Linked DNA regions of Homo sapiens. The protein of the gene in region 1 interacts with the protein of each later gene in a biochemical or structural test. Each region holds a gene or a part of one and is shown in the gene's direction. Other genes may lie near its edges.

What was found. The genes of interacting proteins can lie anywhere in the genome.
Region 2: the proteins of ERBB4 (region 1) and ABL1 form a complex in vitro, tested with the Homo sapiens proteins (2 studies listed by BioGRID and IntAct, with this or other methods).

Annotation. Positions count from the first base shown.
Region 1 is NC_000002.12:212,537,339-212,541,086, reverse strand, and holds the start of ERBB4 (receptor tyrosine-protein kinase erbB-4 isoform JM-a/CYT-1 precursor), read left to right. Parts: upstream 1-2,284; 5' UTR 2,285-2,556; coding exon 2,557-2,638; intron 2,639-3,748. UniProt on the Homo sapiens protein: Tyrosine-protein kinase that plays an essential role as cell surface receptor for neuregulins and EGF family members and regulates development of the heart, the central nervous system and the mammary gland, gene transcription, cell proliferation, differentiation, migration and apoptosis.
Region 2 is NC_000009.12:130,852,254-130,856,001, forward strand, and holds part of ABL1 (tyrosine-protein kinase ABL1), read left to right. Parts: intron 1-1,810; coding exon 1,811-1,984; intron 1,985-2,547; coding exon 2,548-2,843; intron 2,844-3,748. UniProt on the Homo sapiens protein: Non-receptor tyrosine-protein kinase that plays a role in many key processes linked to cell growth and survival such as cytoskeleton remodeling in response to extracellular stimuli, cell motility and adhesion, receptor endocytosis, autophagy, DNA damage response and apoptosis.

The DNA of each region.
Region 1 (3,748 bases):
AAAAAAAAAAAAAGGTAGAGTTGAGGTCTCACTATGTTGCCCAGGTTGGTCTGGAACTTCTGGCCTCAAGGGATCCTCCCACTTCAGCCTCCCAAAATGCTAGAATTACAAGCATGAGCCACCACACCTGGCCCATTCCTTCACTTCGTGCAACATAATTGCCATCAGAAACCAGACTTTTTTTTTTTTTTTACTACAGAGACTTAAACTTTTACAAAAGGAAGATGTTTTTCTCATTTAAATTGTCATTCTAGGGACAGAAAGTAAGTTTTGAAAAGAAGTAGCTTTTATGGAAGAGAGGTGCCTGAGAATTTCAAAAGGATTTAAGACAAGGGGAATGAGAAGAGATTGAATGAAAGAAGAGAAAACAGAGAGAAAGAGTAATTAAAAAAAAGAAAAGAAAAGAAAACAAAGATAATCCCAAAGAGCAGTGTGCACAGTTTTGCTGCAATCAGTACCATTCTGGTCAAGTCTCCGTCATCTGCTCTAGGCTTAGTTCCTCTCTGCCCTAGGCTGCTTCTGGTAAAACCGCACGCTCAGCTTGTTGGGCGTCTTCATGGAGCCTGTTATTTGCTGTGGGTCTAAGAAAGGGAAAGCTTCAGGCTTCAGGCATCTGTACCTCCTATCTGTTCTCAGCTCCATGGAAATTCTTAAGGGATGGGGCTATAGATAAGAGAGTGGGAAATGGAGATCAAGGTCTCAAATGAAAGGCAGGGTGGTTTGATTTTTAAGCTCCCCTGATACTTTTTATTTATATATTTGCTGCTTCTAGAAAAACCAAAAAAGGAAAGTGATTCATACATAGAATGCCTGTACAAATAGCAAACCAATAACTACCCCCAGCAGATTCTGGCCCTTGCCAGGGTGCGGTTTCAGAGCTGTAAAAGGCAAGGGATATGTACATTGAAATGACCCAGTCCCAGAATATTTTAGATTCAGAAAAGGTCAGAGACTTTCGTAACTAGCAATGACCTCCAGATTAGGGACCATGAATGTGCAGAGTGAGGACAAGGAAGGGGCCTAAAGCTGGGTCTACTGTAGAATAAACAGAATCATTTAAGGTTAATTATGTTCTGATGTGGCCTCCTTAAATTCTTTCAGGCTGGGGACAATTTCTAGCCCTTTAAGATCAAATCAGTGGCTTTGGACTAGAATCTGCTTAATAAGAATGAACTCCAAAGGTGAAAAAAAAACATAAAATCTAAAAATCAAAGGATATGCCTTTATAAATGTGAAAGTTTAGTTTGGCTCAATGTTGGTCAGTTTAGAAATGTGGGAGTAATCGGAGAGATGGCATAACTGGGGGCGGGAGGCGGGGCGGTGATTATACCCCTACCACTACCTAATCCTCAGGGGCTACCAGTTACTTGCTGTACACACTTTTAAAGTACTTTCTAATTGTGGACCATGAGTGGCAGAGTACTGCGGGCGGAGGCTTTTTGCTGAAAGCAACATTGACTTTTATTTCTAGGGAAAGTCTTGTCTGTAGATGAGCACCGTGGGGCAACGGAGAAAATGCTGACTTTCTTGTTTAAAAAAAAAAAAAATTTCCGTAAGCGGCCCTCCAATGGTCCGTCCACTCAGCAGGCCAGCTGTCCCAGGCCTCTGCCAGGGAGGGAAGACGAGTGCTTCAGTGCATGGCTTCGGTGAGCCCTTTAAATCCAGCTTCCCCTGCCCCCACCAAGAGGCTCCCTTTCCCTGACAGGTGTTTTCCCAACTCCGGAGGCCCAGGATTTTGGGGAGTGGCTGAGCCAATAAGATTTCCCTTTGGAAGGGGGGGGGAAGGGCGTGGCTAGTTGGGTCAGAGCATGGGCGGGGTTTGCGCGGCTGAGCAGAGCCGGCCTGGTTGCGTGGAGGGTTGTTTTATTCCCACCGCCCCCCGCACCTTTTTTTTTTTTTTTTCTGGAGTCTTATTAATTTCTCTGTGGGCTGCAGCTGGAGACCGCGGAGCGCTGGAAATGACGCTCGGAGCTTTAATTACCGCAGCCGCCGGACAAGTGTGAGGAAAGCTGAGAGGAAAAAGAAGGACGGGATCCGGGGAGAAGCGAGAAGCTCCCCCCGCCCCGCTCCCCTCCCGATTTGGACTGGAGGTGCAAGGAAACTGAAGAAGGAGCAGAACATAGCCCGGCTGCGGGGAGAGGCCGGAAACCTACCGCCTCTTTGCAATCAACTTTTTTTGGAAACCTTTCGCCCCCCTTCCTTTTTTATTGTTGACCAACCAGTGAGAGAGAGAGAAAGTGAGGAGGGAGCGAGCAAGCGAAGGCTCACGCGGGGAAATAGCTGCACAGTCCGGCCCAGAGCGCCAAGCGCACACACCGAGCACACTCCCACACGCGCACACACGCGCTCACACTCGCCCCCTCCTCGGGCCCCGGCCCTGGACCCGCGGGCGCGGACTCGGTCGCCCGCCCTGGGAGTCGCCACACCGCGCGCGCCGCGCCCGCCCCCCTCGCACCCCCACGCGCGCCCGGCTGGGGGATCTCCTCCGCGTGCCCGAAAGGGGGATATGCCATTTGGACATGTAATTGTCAGCACGGGATCTGAGACTTCCAAAAAATGAAGCCGGCGACAGGACTTTGGGTCTGGGTGAGCCTTCTCGTGGCGGCGGGGACCGTCCAGCCCAGCGATTCTCAGTCAGGTGGGTTCCTTCTGGCACTCCGGTCGCCGAACCTGCAGCCGCCGGCGGGGCTGCCTCGAGTGGCTCCCCTGCCCTCTTCACCCATCCCGGGAGGCGTGGAGGGACCGCTTGACCGGGGCCTCTTCCCTGGGCTTTCGGTCACCCCTCTTTCCATTTGAAACTTACCCTGTATGTGTGCGTTTGCTTTATTTATCGTGAAAAATCACTCTGAGTCCCTCTTTTCTCTCCTTAACCCCCTGCTTTTCTTTCCCGAGCGTTTTGTTTGGGAGCCTAAGCGGGATCCCTTCTGGTGGCGCCTGTTGTTCGGGACATGGGAGACCCAAATCCCCAGTCAGAGGAGACTCTTCTGTCCCTGTCGGGTCCCCGAGGGCAGAACCCGCACCGCCGGGGCCGCGGTCCTGGGGCGGTGCTGGCTGGGCCTCTCCCGAGCCGAGCCCGAAGGGCGGTGGAGAGCGGCGCTCAGAAAATCGGGCTTTGCACCTGTGTGTGCTGCTGGCGACCGCTGCGCCCCCAGTCGCCCGAGCCTTGTGGCGTCAGACGCAACTCGCGCCCAGCCCGGGCAGCCGGAGTGCAGCAGGCGGGCGCGCCTCGGTCCGGGGCCCGGAGTTCTGGGCCTCTTCCGCCGGCTTCCCGGAGCCCTCTCCCCATTGACTTGAGGGGCGCTTACTCGCCTGCCTGACCTCTTAAAAAAAAAAAAAAAGGCTTGGCACACTTGAGCCAGAAGCCCGGCCTTCCCGTCGGTTGCCGTGTTTGGCTCCGGGAAGAGTTCTTCCTGTAGTTCAACTTGCTATTGGCCGGAGTCCTTCAAACTTGTCTGTTTACTGCCCGGCCAGGCTGCCGAGCCTGCGGGTCACTGGATCCACCCGAGGCGAAAGCGGCAGCGGCGATGGGTGCGCGGCCACTGCTTGCTGGAGAGCTCGAGCCCCAGGTACCTGGGCAGGCAAAGGGCTAATTGACCCCGAGAGGCAGCGCGGCGGGGCTGGCCCGCCACGGCTTGCAGGACTAATGACAGCACCTGCAGTGCAATGGAGCTCAAAGTTTCTGACACTAGAGTTTCCTGGGGATGAAAGTGGGACGGGAGAGGTCTGAGGAGGACCGGTGTCTTGACGT
Region 2 (3,748 bases), on another chromosome or scaffold:
ATCTCAGCTCACTGCAACCTCCGCCTCCCAGACTCAAGCGATTCTCCTACCTCAGCCTCCTGAGTAGCTGGGACTAGTAGCTGGAACTACAGGCGCCCGCCACCATGCCCGGCTAGTTTTTTCTATTTTAGTAGTGACGGGGTTTCACCGTGTTGCCCAGGTTGGTTTTGAACTCCTGAGCTCAGGCTCAGGCAATCTGCCTGCCTCAGCCTCCCAATGTTCTAGGGTTACAGGCATGAGCTACTGTGCCTGGCCCAGTTAGTGATTTTTAAATTGTAGTTCCTTAAATGAGTATTTTGGATTTCACTCCACAATGTTCTTCAACTGTAAGATCTACTTGAGGTTATTTGATTTGCTGGTTTGCAAGAACTCGTCTACACGTTGTCTTTATCACAAAGAAATTCTGGAGCGTTTGAGCCCTGTTCAAAAAAAAAAGGCAAGAAGAAACTTCAGGAACAAATAACCTATTTGACCCTGTAATGAATAATATTCACACATTTTCTAATTTAAGAGCTGTTGATTGATTTCCAACTTTTAGAATCTGTTTCAGACAAAACATGGAAGTTTAGTAACAGTTTTTTCTATTCTGTAATAATAATTGCCACAAGGTTAAAAAAAAAAATTTACAGAAGAACATATTTGAGGGTGGTCGTGGGGGCAAGAAAGCTGGAAGGACGGGTGGGGTGTGTTAATAGCCTTGTCTTGTGAAGTAAGTCCTCAGAGACGCTGTCCTAGTTGGAAGAACAGGCAGTGAAGGTGTGCGTCTGTTACGGAGAATAGGACTCCAGTGATCTAGCTGGTACTTAGAGAGGTGGGGGTGATCACCAAAAAAACAGCTCTGCCTCTGGGAGCGGAGAGGACTGGGATAGAAAGTATTTGTCTTTCATTTTAAGCCCTTCTGTACGATTTGACTTTTCTTTTTTTTTTTTTTTTTTTTTTTGAGATGGAGTCTCACTCTGTCACCCAGGCTGGAGTACAGTGGCACGATCTTGGCTCACTGCAACCTCCGCCTCCCAGGTTCAAGCAATTCTCCTGCCTCAGCCTCCCAAGTAGCTGGGACTACAGGCACCTGCCACCATGCCCGGCTGATTTTTGTATTTGTAGTAAAGACAGGATTTCACTGTGTTGGTCAGGTTGGTCTTGAACTCCTGACCTCATGATCCACCCCCGGCTTTTTTTTTTGACACGGAGTTTCTCGTTACCCAGGCTGGAGTGCAGTGGCGCAATCTCTGCTCACTGAGACCTCCACCTCCTGGGTTCAAGCGATTCTCCTGCCTCAGCCTCCTGAGTAGCTGGGACTACAGGTGTGCGTCACCATGCCCGGCTAATTTTTGTATGTCTAATGGAGACAGGGTTTCACCATGTTGGTCAAGTTGGTCTCAAACTCCTGAACTCAGGTGATCCACCCACCTTGGCCTCCCAAAGTGCTGGGATTACGGGCGTGAGCCACCATGCCCGGCTAAAGCAAGAAATTTTCATTGCATATTTTAAGCAAAGGCAAATGCATATGTGGATAGACTGTTTTAATTTGACTAAAGTCATATTGAATCCATGAATTTTAGAAGCTCAAACTATTGGGGAACAATAATTACCACCTTGGAGTGAAAATACTTAATTTCCACAAGATTTAGTAAAGGAAGAGTTTTTTAAAAACCACCTTAATGATAATAGTATGTACAGATGTTAAGAAATGAAATAGGAATGTGTAATGTTGGAAACACAAATATTTTTGCTTCTGAGAATAAAACTAATTTTTTCTCCCAATTTTCTCTTCCTTTTTCTTTTTTCTGTTCCCCCCTTTCTCTTCCAGAAGCCCTTCAGCGGCCAGTAGCATCTGACTTTGAGCCTCAGGGTCTGAGTGAAGCCGCTCGTTGGAACTCCAAGGAAAACCTTCTCGCTGGACCCAGTGAAAATGACCCCAACCTTTTCGTTGCACTGTATGATTTTGTGGCCAGTGGAGATAACACTCTAAGCATAACTAAAGGTAAAAGGGTTGTGGGCAGCTAGTGGTGGTTGCAGGAGATAGAAATCTGGGAATTGCGGTTTGACCTACCACCCTTTGCTCGTTAAAGGAGCAGCTTTGAAATCTGGACTGCAGGGATATCCAAAACAACAACTGCATGTTTCTAAGGGAGTCGACTCTCCTTAGAGGAGTTCTTGTACAATAGCCCTGGGCAAAAACAGAACTTGCCCTATTTTTTATACTGAAAAGGACAGCTGGACAAAATACTGAACGCAATTTTTCCCCTAAGAAAAAGCATTATTTCCCTAAAATGTCTTATATTAGGAACAGAGCACTTGAATAAACATAATTGATTTATAAAAACTGAGGCTATACACTTACCTATCTGTTCAGTACAAACAGGAAGCTTCAAATGTAAACGTGAATTCTCATACACTTATAAATGCATATCTTTATGTGGACTTGTTAAAATGAAATTGGTATTTAGGAATTTGGAGATTTTTAGTAGTTACACAAGAATCAATGAAAAAGAACGAAGCTGGTTTCCAAAGCTGATATGTCTGATTTGGTTCCTTTCTTCTCAGGTGAAAAGCTCCGGGTCTTAGGCTATAATCACAATGGGGAATGGTGTGAAGCCCAAACCAAAAATGGCCAAGGCTGGGTCCCAAGCAACTACATCACGCCAGTCAACAGTCTGGAGAAACACTCCTGGTACCATGGGCCTGTGTCCCGCAATGCCGCTGAGTATCTGCTGAGCAGCGGGATCAATGGCAGCTTCTTGGTGCGTGAGAGTGAGAGCAGTCCTGGCCAGAGGTCCATCTCGCTGAGATACGAAGGGAGGGTGTACCATTACAGGATCAACACTGCTTCTGATGGCAAGGTAGGGGACCCTTGGCAGGGGGCGCTGATGGGCCCAGGGCAGGGGAACCAGAGGTCCTGCTGTCGGATTGATAAATTATTGCAAGAAAGCTCAACCAAGAAGATGTTTAAAGAATCTTTCAGGTGGGAGTCATTCCATTAGCCTTATGAAGACCCTTTATTGAGGATCCGTTCTGTGATATTACAAGTTCCTGGGACTGGTATGATTCTCTTATTGTCTTGCTAGAGTTTTGTTGTTAGCAAGTTACTTAAAATAGGAGGAATATCTGTTGGGTTTTGGACACATTTTTTACAATAAGATTCTTCCTTTAAAAAAAATATTTTATAATGATAGAAATCATCCCCAACGAGAAAAATTCAAATAATAGATAACCTTTCTTAGAGCGAAAGACCACTTTACTATCCCCTCCCCCACAGACGCCTGGCACGTGGGCTTCTTCCTGCGGATGAACACATTCATGGAGAGGTGTGTGGACATACGTGCATACACGCATGCAGTTTTCAGTGAAAACCGGGATCAAACCCACAGCTTACCAAACCCAAAGTGTGGTGTTGTAAGGGAGGTGGCCTATATGATTTTGTGGTCTTCATATAAATAATCCTTAAGAGTCCATAAAGAGAAGGGAGGAGTTAACATTGACTGAGGTATTGCTATAATACCTGCATCTTTGCATTAAAGAAAGGGAGGCATAAAGAGATCTTGCCCGATGTCAACCTAGTGAGTCACTGATGGAATAGGCTTGGATCCCACAGTTTATTCTACTGCACCAGGCTGTAGTTGAGGTACAGTGTTGATAGGTGGTCCCGATGGTGTATGTTTGTTTGTTTGTTTGTTTTTGAGATGGAGTCTTGCCCTGTCACCCAGGCTGGAGTACAGTGGTGCGATCTTGGCTCACTGCAACCTCT